Linked DNA regions of Homo sapiens: region 2 is linked to region 1. Evidence: fine-mapped expression QTL. Tissue or cell type: whole blood. Region 1 holds a variant in brackets; the other region holds the start of a gene. All regions are shown on one strand. Distances are from middle to middle.

The links. PIP is the estimated chance that this variant, and not a neighbour inherited with it, causes the effect. A credible set is the group of variants that fine-mapping cannot tell apart.
Region 2: it holds the start of KLHL26, and the variant in region 1 is the best candidate, but not a certain one, in a credible set for the expression of KLHL26 in whole blood (TOPMed, PIP 0.54).

What each region holds. Positions count from the first base shown.
Region 1 is chr19:18,664,847-18,669,004 of GRCh38, forward strand. KLHL26 (kelch like family member 26) reads left to right here. Exons shown (of 3, transcript NM_018316.3): 3 at 2,818-4,158. Among named protein-coding and RNA genes, the nearest start is that of CRTC1, 17 kb to the right of the region's middle. The variant T/C (reference allele first, on the strand shown) is at 2,011.
Region 2 is chr19:18,634,857-18,639,014 of GRCh38, forward strand. KLHL26 (kelch like family member 26) reads left to right here and starts at 2,172. Exons shown (of 3, transcript NM_018316.3): 1 at 2,172-2,281. The coding sequence starts at 2,199. RefSeq lists silencers at 1,317-1,506, 1,547-1,626, 1,637-1,796, 1,847-2,356 and enhancers at 1,843-2,137, 2,096-2,610, 2,611-3,125.

The DNA.
Region 1 (4,158 bases):
GTGCTGAGATTATAGGCGTGAGCCACCGCTCCGGGCCCCTTCTGATTTTAGAGAGAGGTTTAATGTCCAGTAAACCTGCAGGTTTCCCGGAGTTTGCATCTTACTCTCTTTGGGCAGAACATGCCTGGAGGGACAGAGATGGCCTGTGGGCACCCACTCACTTCTACCCTGCATGCAGGGTGGCAGGGCTTGGCCAGGTTTTTGATCTGTTTTGTTTTTTTTTTTTTTGAGACAAAGTCTCGCTGTGTCGCCCAGGCTGGAGTGCAGTAGCACAATCTTGGCTCATTGCAACCTCCGCCTCCCGGGTTCAAGCGATTCTCCTGCCTCAGCCTCCCGAGTAGCTGGGACTACAGGCGCATGCCACCACACCTGGCTAATTTTTTGTATTTTTAGTAGAGACGGGGTTTCACCATGTTAGCCAGGATGGTCTTGATTTCCTGACCTCATGAGCCACCTGCCTCAGCCTCCCAAAGTGCTGGGATTACAGGCGTGAGCCACTGCGCCCAGCCCAATCTGTCTTTACTTGACGCCTGCTGTATGCCAGGCACTATTCTAGTCCTTGGGATGCAGCAGGGATGACAGTGAAATGGGCACAAGCCCCTGCCCTCAGGGCATCCCCTCAGGACACCTGGAGCAGGACAGCTGGGGGACTGGAGGGGCATCGAGGGCCGCAGAGACCCTGTGTCTGCCAACACCATGTCCTGGGCTCTGTCTGAGGCCCAGATGAGTTCTCCTCCCTGTCTCCCTGAGCTGTGGGCACTTCCCCAACGTGACAGAAGAGGCCATGGCGGGCACTGTCTGTCTGTCCCTGTGCCGTGGCCGGGCCGGAAGTGAGAGCACCACAGAGCAGGGCTGTGGGGTGGGGGGTGCTTTCTCCTCGCCAGCTGGGGGCTGTTGCAGGGCTGAGTGGTCTCCCTCCCTGGGTGACCAGCAGGTGAGCCTCCTTCCTGCCAGGTGGTGACCCCGCCAGAGAGAGCTGGGCCGCCCTGGGGAGGCTCCCAGGCCCCAGCCCAGGTGTGCCGCTCAGCCACACATTCCCCGAGGCCCGGGCCGCCTGCCCCATGGGCTCAATGAGGCTGTTGTGGGGGCCGCAGCAGCCGAGCCAACTGGGGCGCCGCTTCTATTTTTATTCTGGATTTGGGGACGGGTGGGCCAGCCCAGCCAGCAATGCCCTTTAAAGGCTCCCCTGTGCTGGCACTGCAGCCAGCGAGACCTTAAAAGGCAAAGCTCCCTCCTGTCGCCTGCGACCGCCTCTGCCTTCATCGCATCATGCCCGAGGGCCAGCGTGGACCCGTGGGGACAAGCGGGGCAGGGTCTGGGGAGCTGGCAGCGTACTTACTGCTCCTGGACCGCTCAGAGATGCTGAAGAGCTGCTTGTTGGGCAGATGTCAGTGGGCGGCCCCGAGATAGTGCCCTGGCAGCTGTCCTTGCCCCTGTAGCCCTGAGCCTGGCTCACAGGAGGTGCAAGACTAGGGGACAGGCCTCTGTGGGTCAAATGCACAAGGGATGTTCCCTCCTCCTCGGACGGCCATCAGGGGAGGTGCACTGGCAGGAGTGAGAGTTACTATGCCATGCCATTGCGCCTCCTGGAAGGAACCGCCCATTCCCCTGGAGCTGGGGTGCTCTCCCCTCTTCTGCTGGGGAACACCCTAAACGCTGTAGGGGAACTGTGACCTAGAACCGTGTGCCTCCCCGCTGCCCTCCCTCACGGGGGCCTGTGTCCCCTCCCACTCTCATGTTCTGCCTCGCAGAGCACAGCAGTACAAGGGCGGAGCTGGGGTCTCAATGGAGGCTGGGGACGTAGCTGTTGGGTGGGAGGTGCTTCCCCGACCACCTGAGCCTGTCTCTGGAGACAGCAGTCACCCCAGCACAGCCTCCTGGTGGGGGCTCCATTCCTGGGGACCCTCATTACCTTCCCCTCTTCACATGATGGTTGTTGAGACTCAGGCTGGGCATATCAGAGCTGCCTGCTTAGGTCAGTGAACAAGGTGAGGGTTGAACTGTGGTGCA[T/C]GGCACCTCCAGAGCACTGGCCTTGCAGTTCCTGAGCTCAGGTGTCAAGTGGGGCTGCAGATCTGTCCCCAGAGCCACAGGGTGTGTTCTCATCCTGCACTGCCATACCTGGCCCCTCTAACCGCACCCCCGACAGGCACATTGTGGGTGAGGCTGACCCGGGCCACCGCTCCTGCAGCTCCAACACGATCTAGTCATGAAGGGGCAGGGGCAGGGTCCTCTGCAGAGGGGCCAAGCAGGGAGTTGCTATTTATAGGAAGATGCATGGCTTGGGTGGATTCAAAATCTTTTTTTTTTTTTGCATGTTTTTTTTGTTTGTTTGAGACAGAGTCTCACTCTTATTGTCCAGGCTGCAGTGCAGCATGATCTCGGCTCACTGCAACCTCCAGGTTGGTCTTGAACTCCTGACATCAGGTGATCCACCCACCTCGGCCTCCCAAAGTGCTAGGATTACAGGCGTGAGCCACTGTGCCTGGCCTTTGCATGTTTTTGTTTGTTTGTTTGTTTGTTTGTTTTTGTGACTGAGTCTCACTCTGTCACCCAGGCTGGAGTGCAGTGCCAGTGGTCTCGATCTCCTGATCTCATGATCCACCCGCCTGGGCTTCCCAAAGTGCTGGGATTACAGGCATGAGCCACCGCGCCCGGCCCCTTTGCATGTTTTTAATGAGCATTCCGCCTACTTTCCTCTTGCTGGCTGTGCCCTGTGTTCTGTGTCCCCAGGCTACTGTTCCCCAGGCCAGATCATTCCTGGCTGGCCAAAACACCCCTCAGCCACTGCCAGCCACACGTTGTGTTTCTGCCCTTCAGGGCCATGTTCACCGGCGGCATGCGGGAGGCAAGCCAGGACGTCATCGAGCTGAAGGGCGTGTCGGCCCGTGGCCTGCGGCACATCATCGACTTCGCCTACAGCGCCGAGGTGACACTGGACCTGGACTGCGTGCAGGACGTGCTGGGCGCGGCCGTGTTCTTGCAGATGCTGCCCGTGGTGGAGCTGTGCGAGGAGTTCCTGAAGGCGGCCATGAGCGTGGAGACCTGCCTCAACATCGGCCAGATGGCCACCACCTTCAGCCTGGCCTCGCTGCGAGAGTCGGTGGATGCCTTCACCTTCCGGCACTTCCTGCAGATCGCCGAGGAGGAGGATTTCCTGCGCCTGCCACTGGAGCGCCTGGTCTTCTTCCTGCAGAGCAACCGGCTGCAGAGCTGTGCCGAGATCGACCTGTTCCGCGCGGCCGTCCGCTGGCTGCAGCATGACCCGGCCCGGCGGCCGCGCGCCAGCCACGTGCTCTGCCACATTCGCTTCCCGCTCATGCAGTCGTCCGAGCTGGTGGACAGCGTGCAGACGCTGGACATCATGGTGGAGGACGTGCTGTGCCGCCAGTATCTGCTGGAGGCCTTCAACTACCAGGTGCTGCCCTTCCGGCAGCACGAGATGCAGTCTCCGCGCACCGCCGTGCGCTCGGATGTGCCCTCGCTCGTCACCTTCGGCGGCACGCCCTACACCGACAGCGACCGCTCGGTCAGCAGCAAGGTCTACCAGCTGCCTGAGCCGGGAGCCCGCCACTTCCGCGAGCTCACGGAGATGGAGGTAGGCTGCAGCCACACGTGCGTGGCCGTGCTGGACAATTTTGTGTACGTGGCCGGGGGGCAGCACCTGCAGTACCGCAGCGGCGAGGGCGCAGTGGACGCCTGCTACCGCTACGACCCCCACCTGAATCGCTGGCTGCGCCTGCAGGCCATGCAGGAAAGCCGCATCCAGTTCCAGCTGAACGTGCTGTGCGGCATGGTGTACGCCACGGGCGGCCGCAACCGAGCCGGCAGCCTGGCCTCCGTGGAGCGGTACTGCCCCCGGCGCAATGAGTGGGGCTACGCCTGCTCGCTGAAGCGCCGTACCTGGGGCCATGCTGGGGCCGCCTCAGGGGGCCGCCTCTACATCTCGGGTGGCTACGGGATCTCAGTGGAGGACAAGAAGGCCCTGCACTGCTACGACCCCGTGGCCGACCAGTGGGAGTTCAAGGCGCCCATGAGCGAACCCCGCGTGCTACACGCCATGGTGGGTGCCGGCGGCCGCATCTATGCCCTCGGGGGCCGCATGGACCACGTGGACCGCTGCTTCGACGTGCTGGCTGTGGAGTACTATGTGCCGGAGAC
Region 2 (4,158 bases), 30 kb before region 1:
CAGTGAGTCTACAGCACACTATGTGTGTGTGCACAGCCAGGAGCCCAGAGAACCTCTTCTTTCTTATCTTCAGCTGTGTGTCTTGTGTGTCTGACATATGGGTCAAATCTGGATGTTTATGAAGTGTGCGTGCATATGGACACCATTGATTTCAAATGTTATTTGTGGCGGGTGTGTCAGCTGTAGGTCGCTGCTGAGTGAGGTTTGATGCCTGCATGTGGTTCGTCTGGAACAAAGACTCCTGGGGCGGTGCTGACTTAGGGCAGGCAAGGGTGTGTGTGTGTGTGTGCAGAGCTTGCCGGAACGTGAGCTGTTCATGCACGCGTGCATTCAACATTTGCAGAGTGCTTACTGTGTATTGGAGATGCCAGCAGTTCCCTTCAGCACTTGGTATCTGTCAGCTTGCACAGGGTCATCTGAGAGCATTTTGTGTAACGATTGAGCACGTATTGTTGTATCAGGCCCTCTGTTGGAGATGCTGGTTGAGTGCGGTCCAACCTGCAGGAGTCCACTCAAGCAGGCCCCTTCCTTCCTCCTATGGGGTCTCCAGCCCCATAGCCACCTCCTTCTTCCAGCACTGACGGGAAAGAAGGCTTTGAGCTCCTTCTGGATCACTGCTTTCTGCCCAAGACTGCACAAGTCAGAGTTTTCTGACTTGGAGGTTAAAAGAATAAATGAGCTCCAAGCTACAGAGGGGATCCTGGGAGCCTGGAGCTTACCAGAGATGGGGGGTGAGGGGTGCCCCCAAAAGGTCTAGATGCTTCATAGACGCCTATAGATGCAGGACTTTGAGCCCTGGCTGAGGGTCAGTGTGTTGGGAGGGCTGGTGCTTGGGGATCTGAGGGTGTTGGGTCCGGTGGAATGGACTTTGGGAGTGTAAGGTTTGAAGGATCTGTGGGCAGGGATTTGGGGGAGTGGGAGATGAGTTTTGAGTAGAGAATGGGAGATAATTGGATGTGCAGGGTTTTAGAGTATGAGAAACCAGAATTGGTGTATGAAGCAGGTGGTGGGAACCTAAGGCCAGATGATTGGGGTCTCAGGGTGGAGGCTCTGAAGAGGGTATGTCAGGGGAGGGTGGGGAACCATGAGGGGCTGGAAGTCTGAGGCCTGGGCATGGGTGAGTTTCGCCCCTGAGAGAGGCCTGGGAAGGAGGTAAGACTGGAGTCGGGGTGTGCAGGGTGGGGAGAGGGAGGGTGTGGTTCTCAGAGCTTAGAGACCCATTTCTCCATGCTCCATCTCACCCTCCCTCCCACCCTACCTATAACTCACTTCCCTGTGGCTCCAACGCCTCAAAGTATAACCACGCCCAGCCAACGCCCGGGGCACGCCTGCCAGCGCCCCAGGGCACTCACAGACACTCCTTAACACCTGCACGTGCCCCGCCCCTCCTCAGATCCGCCGCTCACTTAGCCCGGCCCCACCCCCATCAGATGAGGCTCCGCCCCCCCGGCCCCGCCAATCCCTCGCCCCCTCCACGCACACACCCCTGATCTTCCCCGCCCTCCTTCCAACCAGACTCCACCCCTCGCCCAGGCCCCGCCCTTCCTCAGACCAGGCCCTCTCTTCGCTTGACCACATCCATCCCCAGATTCCTCCTCTCTCCTGCCCAGACCCGCCCAACCTCAGACCCATCTTCTCCTTTCTACCTCCCCGACCACTCCCCCACCGCATTCCTAACCTCCACCTTGTCCCTTCTCACACCTGGCCCCGCCCTTTATCCTGCGCCCCGCCTCCTCCGCAGGCCGGACCCTTGTCCCTCCTCCTCTTGCCCTGGGCCTGCCCCTTCTTCAGACCCCGCCCCACTCCTCAGCCCAGGGACCAACCCCATCCTGCGCCTACTTGTCCTGCTTCGCCCCGTCCCCACCTATCCACAGACAATACGCCCTCTCAGCCCAGAACCGCTTCCCTTTCAGACTTGGTTCCGCCCCTCACGCCAGGGTCCCGCCCCAATCCGGCACCCCTAGCCCAGGCCCCGCCCTGGACCCACCTCTCTGCATAGCAGGCCCCTCCCTTTATCCCAGACCCGCCCCGGCCCTCCGTAGACCACGCCCCTCCGATTCCGGGCCCGCCCCAATCCTTGGTTTCTGGTCCCGGCCCCGCCCCTCCGCAGACCTGGCCCCGCCCCGCCCCCCGCGTCTCGGTTTCCCGGGCCTGCGCGCGCGGCTCCCGTCACTCGAACGCGCGACGGCGGGGGGAAGATGGCGGAGTCCGGCGGTAGCAGCGGTGGTGCTGGTGGCGGCGGCGCTTTCGGCGCGGGCCCGGGCCCCGAGCGCCCGAACAGGTGAGACCCGGCCCGCAGGATAGACCTGCACCTGTCTTGGAGCCCAGGAAACCTGTGGGCAGTCTTGGGCGTCCTGAGGGGTTGAGGGGAGGCCTGGCACGGCTCGAGGGTCTTTCGCTGAGAATTTGGACTTTACGGGGCCGTGGGGTACTGGAGGAGCCGAGGGCTACTGAGGGGGTGGCTGGAGGGGGGCTGGGTGCCCCAGGACCTCGAGGCGTCTGCAGGCGGCCCTAGGGACCTGAGAATCCTGGGGGTCTGAAGGGAAACCGAGGGGCTCTTGACTGTGGTGGGCCGTGGGGCAACTGGGGATGCCAAAGGGCCTGGGCAGCAGAGAGGGCCTGAGCAGGGGCCATGCCATGGCCAGTCTGAGGGTGGTGAGGTGTCTTGGGGGCTCTGAGGAAGGGGCTAAGGCCCAAGGCATCCTGGGAGGTGCTGAAGGGCCCCAAGGTGGCTAAAGGTGGTCCTGAGAGCGTGCTGAGGGGCGCTGGAAGGAGTAGAGACTGTGGGAGGCTCTGGGTGGGGGACTTAGGTGAATCTGGGAGTCTGAGATGGGGAGGCTGAGGGGGCCTGGGGTGGGTCTAGGGAACCTGAGGGGGGTGAGAGAACTCCAGGGGGTTTATAAAGAACATACAGAGGGTTCTTCTTTGGGGCTCCTCCCTTCCATCCCCATGGGGTCCAAATCCACATCCCCAACAGGCTAAAGGACTTACAGAAAGGTCTTGCCCTCAGACAAGGGGACAGAATTCACCCCTTTGGTCAGAGGGAGGCCCCCTTTCCCCATGGCCCAGTCCTGACATGGATTGCTTGAACGTCCAGGTTTGCATGACAATTAGTTATCATCAATAACTAATGATATGTGTGTGCATGCATTGTATTGGATTGTCAGAGGGAAAGAACACCTGCCTTAGGAGTGTGATCTCCTGCTCTTTTCCTATTGGGCAAAGCCAGACCCTCCCACCCCAGCTCCTCCTCTAGCCCAGCACCCAGGTCAGGCCAAGGAGGAAATTCAGGCTTTTTCTTGCTGGTGAGCTTCCAGGAGCCAGTAATTTCAGGCAACATGATAAATGATGAAGTTGTTTGATACTTACGTGCTGTGGAGTTTTGGACCTGTGGGCTGATTGTTGGAGGGAATGGCCTGATGGCCTGGCTGTGTGATTTGGTACTGAATGGAACACGCATGGGATGGGTGGGGAAGGGAGGAGGGATGGCTGGGCCAGGGCACAGAGGAGGCAAAGGCCCTGCCTGTTCCTGAGGATGCTGAGTGGCACCTTGAGACTTAGGTCTGTGGGCATTGAATCTGGTCTGCCAGAGGGGCCATGGGGAACCCAGGAGGTGTGTGTCCAGAGGGGTGACCAGCCTCCTGGGGTAGGTGTGGGGCAAGATTGTCCTGCAGTAGGGAGCCAGGAGATGTCAGAGGATTTTCAGAGATATTCAGGGAGTGGCCAGGGCTTGAAAATTGGGTATCAGTTGGCAAGTAAGGGACAGGGAAGAGGGACAGTGAACCCCAGGTCCCTGCCTTGGGCACTGGAGTGGGATAACCTGGGGCTAGGGCTTTTTTTATTTTTATTTTTTTGAAACCCCGTCTCGCTCTGTCACCCAGGTATCTAGGCTGGAGTGCAGTGACGCCACCAAGGCTCACCGCAGCCTCAAACTCCTGGACTCAAGTGATCCTCCCACCTCAGCCTCCTGAGTAGCTGGGACTACAGGTGTGCACCACCACACTTGGCTAATTTTTAAATTTTTTGTAAAGACCAGGTCTTGCTCTGTTGCCAGGCTGGTCTCAAACTCTTGGGCTCAAGCAATCTTCTTGCCTCACCCCTCACTAAGTGCTGAGATTACAGATGTGAGCCACCATGCTGGGCATGGCTCTTTTTTTA